Linked DNA regions of Homo sapiens: region 1 is linked to region 2. The links come from fine-mapping of genetic effects on gene expression. A gene starts in region 2. The other region holds a variant in brackets. All regions are shown on one strand. Distances are between the middles of the regions. Region 1 holds the start of ZCCHC3 (zinc finger CCHC-type containing 3). Region 2 holds the start of SOX12 (SRY-box transcription factor 12).

Region 1 (5,364 bases), 28 kb after region 2:
CAAGGAAATAGCAAAACATATAGCAAAGGAAAAGCAAACACTAAAAGAAAAGCAGTGTACTGTCTTTTCTACTGGATAACACTTAGTTGGCCCATGACCTCTCGCTTGGCCTATCTCCCAAGTACATTTTAGAGTTAACAGCTCACTCATAATTTTGGGTTAAAATCCATCTTTCTCCTGAGAATCAGGAGTTGCACATGAGCTCCAGCTAGCTGCTTCTCTAGGGTTCGTAGCTATTGAGGCTAAGGTGCAAATGTAAACCTTTGGTAGGTTTCTTTACACAGGGGCACCCCCATTTCTCACTGGTGGCAATGAATGGGGAAGGGGTAGGGCCTCCAAAGGACCTGGCACACTGTAATCCAGAAGTGGTGCCCCAGGGAGCAACGAATGCACCCTGGAGTGTGGTCCTTGGTCCGTTCCGTATCTCCCAAGTATTCAGAAGCCCCTCCTTAAAAACCTTCTCTTTCTGCTCCCTCCTCCAGGTGATTTCTCAGCATTCCTCTGGGCTGATCATTCTGGAGAGATCAGACTTTCTGGGCCCTCAAGTGTTGAGGAAATTGTTGTGAAGTGTGAGAGGTAGTGGAATGAGCACCGGGCTTGGGGTCAGGGGACTCTACTATAGGCTGGCTCTGGCACCAGACAGCTATGTGATTTTCACCCAGTCATTTAACCTCTTTGGGCCTGTTTCATCTGCTGGAAAACCAGGGAATTGGTCCAAACCAACTCTCAGGTTCTTTCCAGCAGGAATATTCTAGATTCCATGATTCTATAAAAAATGGCTTCTGAGCCACCAAAAGAGCTGTCATGAAGTCCATGCATCTTTGTGCCATAAGAGAGGCCCTTGGCCACCATTCAGAGCTTATTGATTCAGATTATATACACTTCTAACAACACTGGTTTCACAAATTCTCAGACCACGTAGATTAAAAGCAGCAAATTAAATGAGGGAGGGGAAGAGCTGCAAAAGGTAGACACTCTGATAGAAGCCACAGTCAACAATGTTTTCAATTCAGCAAACACTGATGGAGTGCCTACCACGTGTTGGGCCCCGTACCTAGTGCTGGGGCATAAAGATGAGCAAGGCAGCCCAAAGGGTGAAAATCCAGGGGAAGAAAAGGTATGGGGCGGGGAGGGCGGGAGGGGGGCAAGGAGAGAGAGAAAAAGTACAAGAAACAAAACAAATACCCAATAGAAAAACGAAAATAAAATTTTAAAAGGGAGGGGCAACACATCTGCACGCTACAGTTCTCCGCAGTCGTTATTGGTGACAGAGTCACCAATTCAGAACAGGCTGAAATGGAGTAAACTCGGTTTAAGAAGGCATAGAGAGATGTCTCTTGTAGGTTTTAAAAAGATCTCCTTCAAAAACGATAAAAAATGGTTTAAAAAAAAGTTTTGGCACTTAAGAGGGATAAGCTGGCTGTGTGTTCACCCTGGCAGGCAGGCGGGTGTTTAGTGCCCGGCCACGCCGGTTAGCTGAGCTGCCACGGAATTGTGCACTGCTTTGGGACACTGGGCAAAGGCGTGTCCTCGCTTGCCACAGAGGTTGCACACGATGCCCTTCCGGCAGTAAGGGCTCAGGTGCCCCTCCTCCCCGCACCTGAAGCACCTGTCCTGCGTGCAGCTGCCGCTCATGTGGGTCCGGGAACCACATTTAAAGCATGTCTTGGGCTGCCCCTTGTACCAGCTGTAGCCCCTCTCGGCCCCCAGGAAGAAGGCCCCTGGCAAGTGCCTGACCCCGCCCTCCCCCTGGCGCAGCTCGATCTCGCATTTGTACTCCCCGGTCCAGATCCCAAACCTGTCGGTCACTTTCACCGGCACGGCCAGCACGTCGCAGTGGCGCTTGAGCCAAGTCACAATGTCCTCCACGTCCACCGTCTCGTTCCGGAAGAGGATGAAGAGCGTCTTCAAGCTGGACTTGCTCCGCCCCAGCACCACAAAGTTCTCCCAGCAGTCCTCCTGCTCCCGCTTCTCCTCGTAGACGCGTAGGAACAGGGCCAGCTTCTCCGCTGAGCGGAAGCTCACGTCGAATTCGCGGCTGCCCGGGATCTGGATGACCGCGTAGATGTCGCTCGGGTCCATGCCGATGGAGCGCAGGATAAGCGCTCCTACCACGAAGTCCCGGGTCGGGCAGGCGCCCTCGTCTCCCTGGAAACAGATGCGGACGAGGAAGCGACCCTTGCCCGGGCCTGCCGCCGCCGCCGGCTCATCCTGGAGGGGCCGCTCGGCCGCGTCCTCGGCCTCGCCGGGCCTGGCCGGGGTCGCCATGGCGGCCGCCGCCGCCTCGGCCTTCTTCCTCCTGCCCGCCTCCGCAGCGCCCTTCTTTTTGCGGGGGTCCACCGCCTCGCCGGCCGGATCTCTCCGACGGCCCTTCGGATCCCCGCGGCCAGCCGGTGGGAAGTCGCCGAGGTCCGGCGCCGCCAGGCCCGCGGGGCCGCCGAGCCCGGCGCTCCCTCCACCGCCGCCGCTTTCCTCCTCCCGCCGCGGCGGCCGCGGCTCGCGGAATTCGCCCTTCTTCTCGGCTAGATTCTTCACCACCTGGGCCCAGCCCATCTTCTCGCGGCCGCCGTCGGCCTCCTCGCCCCGGGCCGCGGGCCGCGCGGGGGGCAGAAGCTGCGGCCGCCCCCGTTTCCTCTCTTCCTCCGCGCCGCCGCCGGTGGCCATTTTACCTCCTTCCCAGCATCCTCCACTCGCTCCCGCAGCCAAAGGGCGCCCATCGCGCGCGCCCGCCCGCCGGGGCTGTGTGGGTTTGGTTTTTTTTTTTTTTTGAAATTTGACGCTACCCTCCCCCGCCGCGCCCTCAAAGGTATCACATGCGGCGCATATTGGCCAGCGCCGGCTCTGCGCCCCCTGCGCTGAGCCTCTCTTCCGCCAGCGCTCGCTCCAACCTCACCTCCGTCCGCAGCGGGATGGGGCGCCCGGAGGCGGCCCTTTCCCCAGCGCGGGTTTGGCAGCCTCCGGCCTCGCT[C/T]TCGAGGATTTGGCGTTTCGCAAGCGGTGCTCGACGATTTCATGCTAGCAGCTTTGCTAACGGCCCACAGCCCACAGGCGGGACGGAGTTCGGCAACATCTCTCCCATTTTTTCTTTTTTGTACCTTTTCTGTTAAAAAAGCAAAAGCAATAGCAAAATTAAAACTTAGCTTTCCGTTTCCCCAGAACTGACTGCAATGCGTTATTTTTTTTCCCACGTCGGATTATGCACGTTTTCAAGAAGAAAAGTTGAAAGTTTTACAGTGAACATTTTACCATTAACTTTTTATCATTAAAATTTTACTCTGTCACACTACGCCTCGATCCATTCATCGGTCTTTATTTTTTGATACATTTCCAAGTAAGTCATATTGCATTAATTTTTATTTTTTTGAAAAGACTTTCGTCGTATTTAGGATGAAGTGTGAGTGCTGCTTAAGTTCCCAGTACTGTGTTAAGCACACTTCAGACTTTATTACATGGAATCTTCCAAAAACAATGCTGTAATTATGCCCATTTTACAGATAAAGAGGCAGGAGTTAAGTCACTTGGCGGAGTTAATAGGCAGCCCCACGTATAGGTAGCTTATATTTCTTTCTTTCTTTCTTTTTTGAGACGGACTCTTGGTCTGTCGCCCAGGCTGGAGTGCAGTGGCTCAATCTCGGCTCACTGCAGGCTCCGCCTCCCGGGTTCACGCCATTCTCCTGCCTCGGCCTCCTGAGTAGCTGGGACTACAGGCGCCCGCCACCACGCCTGGCTAATTTTTTGTATTTTTAGTAGAGACGGGATTTCACCGTGTTAGCCAGGATGGTCTCGATCTCCTGACCTCGTGATCGCCCGCCTCGGCCTCCCAAAGTGCTGGGGTTACAGGCGTGAGCCACCGCGCCCGGCCGGTAGCTTATATTTATTTAACCACTTTATTTCTGACGCCGTGGATCAAGAACTGTGCATCAGATCCTAGGAAACCTTGTTAACAGGCAGATTCCCTTCATCCCAACTGCTGGTATTGGTCTCAGGGGAGCCACTGACTTGGGCCGTTTGCACTTTCCAGTCCTCTCACTTTATATCCTCAGGCACCATTTCCTTTATCCCTTCTCAGCCACGCATTCCCGTGATCATACTCGGAACTTCACCATTACCAGAAACATCAATGTCTTAGATTCACATACTTCTCTGTTATTCTTTCTACTTGCCTGGTCAAGTTTCACCATGAGGAGAATACTTACACAACCAAACAATAGATGTATTTTAAACAATCTCTTCCATTCCTCTTATCTTAAGCCCTCACTCCAGGTAACTATCACATAATCAAATATCTGCAAGGGTCAGGCAGGTGCCTTAAGTAGAAGATATACTGGGTGAACTGGAGATCGAATATTCTATCTGAAGGGGCAACTGCTAGTCAACTGTAGCTGAATATTCCTCTCCAGAAGTGAGGGTCCACTGTGGGGGGATCTTTCAGTTTCCAAAGAGAAATCTGAACTCCAGTTTCTTCTTTTATGGGAAACATTCTTCTCTCTCTTTCGTCTTCTTTAAGATGGTCTCAGCTATATTTGGAACCTCCATATAAATTTCACAACCTGCCTACTAAGTTCCAGGAAACTATGAGATCTTAATTGGCGTTGCACTGCATTTGTACAGAATTACCACTTTATAACACGGAGTCTTTCCATCAATGACCCCACTTGATTTCTCACTTATTTAGGCCTTATTTTATGAATTTCAATAAAATATTATAGTTTTCTTCATAAAGGTCTTACATACTTTTGGGGATTTATTCCAAAGTACCACGTGGTTTGACTGCTATTGTAAGTGAAATTATTGTAAATCAGAAGTTACATATGGTTTGTTGGTGTCCGTTAGAGGAAACACGATTGAATTTTGTGTACTGACCCCATATCTGGCAACAAAGTTGAAACCTTAAAAAATTTCCAGTGGTTTTTGGAATCTCTTTACTTTTCTGTATTGCCAATCATATCGTCTGTGAATAATGAAGGTTTTGTCTCTTTTTTCAAATCTTATACTTTTTCTTGTCTTACTGCACTAGTCAGGAACTCTCATATAATCAACGTATTTTGAGCATTTTTGTTTTGTGTTGGACTTTAAAGGCATCTGTCTGTATTTTGAAAATATTTGACTTGTGGATTAGGTTCTGGCTCCATGTCCAATTTTGCTAATCATATCTTCTTCTGTTGTACAATTTCATTGGTATGTGTAGGGCCATCCTTTTGGTCAGTTTCATTTTTTCCAGGTCAAATTTTGCAGAGATTATTACATCAGGAGCTACAGGGGCCAGGCAGGTACCCTGCAAGGAGAGCAGTCCGGATGGGCACTGAGGCCGTATGGAGAGAGCAGCTCTGGAGGGCTGTGCAGATGATAAGAAGGAATGTCTAGGAT
Region 2 (5,364 bases):
GGTCCGGAGGACTCTGGGACCGTTTGTTCCTGAGATTTGTGTGTGTGAATGAGAGTGTGTGAGCCACCCGGGAGGGTGAACACACGCCGGTGAGATACAGGTAGTGAGGGCAAGGGGGGTGTGGGGAGGCCGGAGGGGCGGGGCGGGGCAGAGAGATGGCGGCGTGAGAGGGGCCACAGCAACAGGGACAGGGCTCCCGAGGGCACCCTGAACTGGACACAACTTCCTCCTAACAGCAGCGTTCTCCCCATTTCTCACGTGGAAAAACCGAGGTGCAAACGGCCCATCACTACTCGGAATCCATTCTCAGTCTCACTGGCCAAGTCGATGGTCTCTCCCAAACCAGATGTTTAAAAGCGAGAGTCTTCCTGCCATCACATCTGCTCTCCACGCCTCAGTCCCAAACCCCTAGCACCAAAGTGCCTCAGTTTTTCCCGCTGTATACTGCAGCTTGAGTACTGAGGGTGGACCTGGGTGACAGGAAGGGCCGGTGCGCTCAGGGAGGAGCCCAGGTTGCGGGTGCCCTGAGGTGAGGGGGCACTTCCCAGGAGGGGGTGGGGAAGGTGCAGCAGGGATCCTGTCCCCAGACAGACTGGTAAGGTGCCTTGGTTTTTAGTTTTCTTGGGTGGTCCCTTCCTCTACTGCTGGATTTCCAGAGAAAGACCTTACCTCTCAATTCCCAGTTGGGGGGAAAAAGGGACGTATAGGTAGGCTGTAGAGGCAGCCACGCGACCGGAGAGGTGGTGCGCGTGGGTGTAGGAGACCCCATACCGGAAAAGGGGCTATGCCACTTGGGAGAGTTTCAGGCCCAAACCAACCCTTCCGAGTGCTCCTCCCATTAAGGCAGCGACGCCCCGTTGGCTGGAGAGGAAACCTAGGGCTCCCGGATCAAAGGATTTCCCAGGATCGCTCTACACTCGCCCCCGCTTTTGCCCGGAGCGGGCGAAGAGTGCGGCTCCGCTGGGACCAGCCCCCTCCTCCCCAGAAGCATTAAGCATGCGCACGAAGGGGGTGGGCCCCAGCGGAGGGGCGGGCCCTAGCGCTCCGGGGATAAAAGGGGTGCGCCCCTCCCCCCAGGGAAGGGAGGGGCGCAGGAGGCGCGTGCGTTGCCACCCGGCCGCATCGCCCCCCTAACCCAGAGAAGGCGGGCCGGGCGAGGGAGGAGAGATTCCGGAGCAAAGGAGGGGGCGGGTCCTCCGGCCACGAGGAGGGGCGTGTGCAAAAGGGGGGAGGGGTGCAGGTCTGTAGGAGAGGACGGGAGGTGTATCGGAGGGGGCTGGCTGCTGGTGGCTGTGCAGGAGGGGGCGACGTGGGGAGGGGCTTGGGTGTCGGGGAAGGGGTGGGGGTTGGGCTGCCTTGGGGTGTGTCTGCGGGGGAGGGGCATGTCTGGATCTGAGGGGGGATGGGCACGTCCAGGAGGGGGCAGGCTGCGCGGGAGATGGGGTGCCAGCCTCGGCCTCCGAGGGGCCCCAATACCTGATTCCTGTATGTAAACAGCTGGTTTGGGGGCGTGCGCGCCCCGCTGACGGTGGGCTCAGTAGGTGAAAACCAGGTCTGCGATGCTAGACGGGCGCCAGTCCCCCGCGATCATCTCGGTAACCTCGGGGGTGCAGTAGTCCGGGAACTCGAAGTGCGACGTGCCCGAGGGAGGCTGCAGGTCCGGGTCGCGATCCAGGGCGCTGCAGTCCAGGCCGGCCGGGCCAGGGGGCAGCCTGGACAGAAAGCCCAGCGACTCCTCCCCCGACGCCACCGTCTCCTCTTCACCTTCCTCAGCCGCTGCCGCCTCCTCCTCCTCTTCCTCCGGCTCCTCGTCCTCCGACGGTGTCGGGGAGGCGGCGGCGGCGGCGGCCGCCCCCTCGCCCGACGGCCCTTGGGCGCGCTCCGCTTGTCCCCGAGCGGCCCGTCCCGCCGGGACCATCCTCCACAGCTCCCGCCCCGGGGTCTCGACCAGGCGCACTTCCAGCAGCTCCTCGTCGTCGTCTTCATCGTCGTCCTCGGGCGCCGCCGCCCCGCCCCCCAAAGGCCCTCCCGCTGCTCGGCGGCCCCCGCGGCCAGGCAGCTGCGGCCCGGGCTTGAGCCGGCTGCCGCCACCGCTACCACCGGGGGGGCGGGGCCGCGCCTTGGCGGGCGCCCCCTTGCTCTTTTTGCGCGGCCGGTACTTGTAGTCCGGGTAATCCGCCATGTGCTTGAGCCGCAGCCGCTCCGCCTCCCGCACGAACGGGATCTTCTCCGAGTCCTGCAGCAGCTGCCAGCGGCGGCCCAGGCGCTTGGAGATCTCGGCGTTGTGCATGTCGGGCCACTGGTCCATGATCTTCCGCCGTTCGTGCTGCGACCACACCATGAATGCGTTCATCGGCCTCTTGATGTGGCCGCTCGGGGTCTTGCACCAGCCGGGCTCGCGCGCCCCCTCCTCGGCCGGCCCGGGTCCCGGGGGCGGCGGCCCGCCGTCCCGCTTGGCCCTCGCGCCCCGCTGCTGCACCATCGCGCCTGGGCCCGGGGCCGCTAGACGCCGCCGGGGGCCGTCCGCATCCTCCGCGGCTGGGGGTGGGGGAGGAGGCAGCGGCGACGGAGGGGCGGCCCCGCCCCGCGGCTCGGCCCGGCCCCCGCGAACTGGGGAGCGAGGAGCTGGGCGCTCGGGCCCAACGGACGGCGGGGGGAGAAGGTCAGCGCGGTCTCAGGCGGGCTCGGCGCGCCCCCGCCGCCTCCGGCAAGTTGCGTCCTGGCTCACAACACACATTGTTTTGCGGGGGCCGAGGAATCGCACCCTCCGGGCCCCCGCGGGCTCTTCCTGCAGCCTCTGGCTCCGCCGCGGCCCGCGCGCGCCGCTCCCCGCCCGGCCGCCGACGCCTTTCAGTGTCTTTCTCCCCGCGCGGCCCCGCCGGCGCGCGCACCACCCCTCCCCCTCGCCGTCTGCGGGCCGCTGCGGCGCGCGCGGGGCCGCCCCGTGTAAACACCGAGGTGCCCGCTTGGGCTGCGGCCGGGCCCCGCCTCGCGCTCGGGCGCCGCGTCACCCGTTGCTGGGCAGAGAAGCCGGTATTTGCATCTCCCAATCGCTGGCCGCCGGAGCGGGGCGGGGCTCGGGCTGCGGGGCTGGGCGGTCTCGCGGCTAGGATTGGGGGAGACCGGCGAGATCGGTTTCTTTTCTTAGGTTAGGGGTTGGAGGAAGGGTAGGGGACGCGAGCCTGCTTCCATCTGACGCTGGACGCTTGTCCCTGCCCCGCGTTGCCTTTTAAATTTTAGCTCATTCCGAGACACCTGCCGTCAGGTAGGATTTCCGCCCTTTCCTCTTTCAGGGACGTCTTTTCGGACCATCCCAGAAGAGAATTTGGGGGGCCCAAGACTCAGGAAAGCTTCTTAAGGGGACGAACTCAGGTTGTCGTAGATGTTGCCCCCCGCCTACTACACACAGGGTCCGACCACATATGGGACCAGCAAATGCTTTTGGACCTAGTGAACAAATCCCTTTCTCATATATATGTATATTTAATCTCGTTCGAAGCTCCATAAGAATCCGGAGGGAGAAGGGAATATGATAATATGATGCCCAGTTTCCAAATAGGAAGCACCGAGGACACGCAGACTAGGATTCGATTCCCAGGCTCGCGGTCCCAGCTGTCTCTCCCCTGCTCAGCACCAAGGGCCGCGGGGCACCTCGCCTGCCAGCCAAAGGTCCTGAGCTGGGCGGACTTCCCGCTTTTCACAAACCGCAGGCGACATTCGAGGATGCGTGGGTGCGCCATTCCCAGGTCCTACCCCACCCCGTAGCCTGCCCGGTGCCCGACTTGGGCGCGTCGCCCCACCCAAGCCTGGAGAAGCGTGCAGGGGCACGGGGCGGAGCCAGTCCTGGGGGCGTGGCCGGGTGGCCGGCACGAGGCGCGTGGCGGGGAGGGGCCGCGCGCTCCCGGCTCACCACGTGTGAGCCAGTTCGGGCACCACTGGGCGTGTGCCGCCCCTGGGGGAGGTCACCTTCACGGCGTCGTGAGCATGGGCGATGGGAGGGGGCGCTGAGGCCTCGCCCTTGGGAAGCAGGAGCTGGGAGGTGCCCGGATTAGGGTCTTTAAGGTGGCATTCCGCTGGGGCGTAGCGGGCATGGTTTGGGGCTAGGAGAATGCGCCTCTGGCGGTACAGCTCACCCACTTCTGGACGAGCGAAGGCCAAGAGCCGAGCTTGAGGGTGTGGGGCGGGGAGGAAGGACCGAGGTGCGGCTCCGCGGCGCGGGGGGCGGGGTGGGGGTGGTGGGGAGAAAGAAATTGGAGCATCCCTGGAGGGAGGGGGCGACTCTTAAAGGCACAGGGTGCTTGGAAGAGGAGGCCCTGCTCCCGTCCAAACGGTCCCTCCGCCTTTCAGAAGCTGAGATCTGGAAAAGCCTACGTGTAAAACCTTTACATCTGCAGCCTGAGCAGTCTACCCGATGGAGTCACACTTCCTGAGTTCACATTCCCAGTCCCTCCTTTTCCTTATCCTGAAAATGGGGATAATTCAGTTTCTCCCTCACATGGTGGTTTTACAGATTAAATGAGATAATGCATGTAAACACATCCTGATACCTAGGCAATGTTCAATAAAACTTATGATAGACGGGACGCGGTGGCTCACACCTGTAATCCCAGCACTTTGGGAAGCCAAGGCGGGCGGATCATTTGAGGTCAGAAGTTCGAGATCCGCCTGGCCGATATGGTGAAACCTTGTCTCTACTAAAAGTACAAAATAATGAGTCAGGCTTGGTGACGCGTACCTGTAATCCCAGCTACTCAGGAGACTGAGGTATGAGAATCGCTTGAACCTAGGAGGCGGATGTTGCAGTGAGCCGCTGCACTCCAGCCTGAGTGACAGAGTGAGACCCTGTCTAAAAAAAAACTAAAAGTTTTGAGAAACTAGATTTCCCAATAGTTACGCAGGTCACCAGCAACCCAGAGACATCACCATAATGAGAAAAAAAAATGGGCAGAGTGGGGACAGCTCTAGGATTTCAGAAAAGGTATCAAAGTAATGATTGTAGGACAAATAAAAGCTTTCTTGGAATTATCAACACCTTAACACTTTTCCCATAAATAAAATATTTGTTTTATTTTAGACGGTGTGTGATAGGTACCACAATCTTTTCAATGCTTATGGCCTCTCAAAGATCTGTCTCTGACCCTGTAGCTGCTGCTGCTATTATTATTCCAATGTATGTGAATAGTTCCTAACCTTACTCACTGCCAAACTGATTTGGACCAGGATTTCACTCTTTATTCTCAGCAGTGAAAATGCTGCATTCATTATTCACACCTGCCTCCTTTCCTTCTTCCATCCATGCATGCATCCATTAATAAACATTTGACCCTGCACAGTGGTTCACAGCTGTAGTCTTAGCACTTTGGG

Evidence for each region. PIP is the estimated chance that this variant, and not a neighbour inherited with it, causes the effect. A credible set is the group of variants that fine-mapping cannot tell apart.
Region 1: its variant is the best candidate, but not a certain one, in a credible set for the expression of SOX12 in whole blood (TOPMed, PIP 0.71).

What each region holds. Positions count from the first base shown.
Region 1 is chr20:294,887-300,250 of GRCh38, reverse strand. It overlaps ZCCHC3 (zinc finger CCHC-type containing 3), which reads right to left and starts at 2,681. Exons shown (of 1, transcript NM_033089.7): 1 at 1-2,681. The coding sequence starts at 2,664. The coding sequence ends at 1,453. RefSeq lists silencers at 2,238-2,307, 2,488-2,577. The variant C/T (reference allele first, on the strand shown) is at 2,969.
Region 2 is chr20:323,043-328,406 of GRCh38, reverse strand. SOX12 (SRY-box transcription factor 12) reads right to left here and starts at 2,855. Exons shown (of 1, transcript NM_006943.4): 1 at 1-2,855. The coding sequence starts at 2,482. The coding sequence ends at 1,535. It overlaps NRSN2-AS1 (NRSN2 antisense RNA 1), which reads left to right and starts at 3,155. Exons shown (of 3, transcript NR_109990.1): 1 at 3,155-3,265. RefSeq lists silencers at 966-1,255, 1,296-1,365, 1,726-2,215, 2,236-2,295, 2,366-2,745 and 2 more.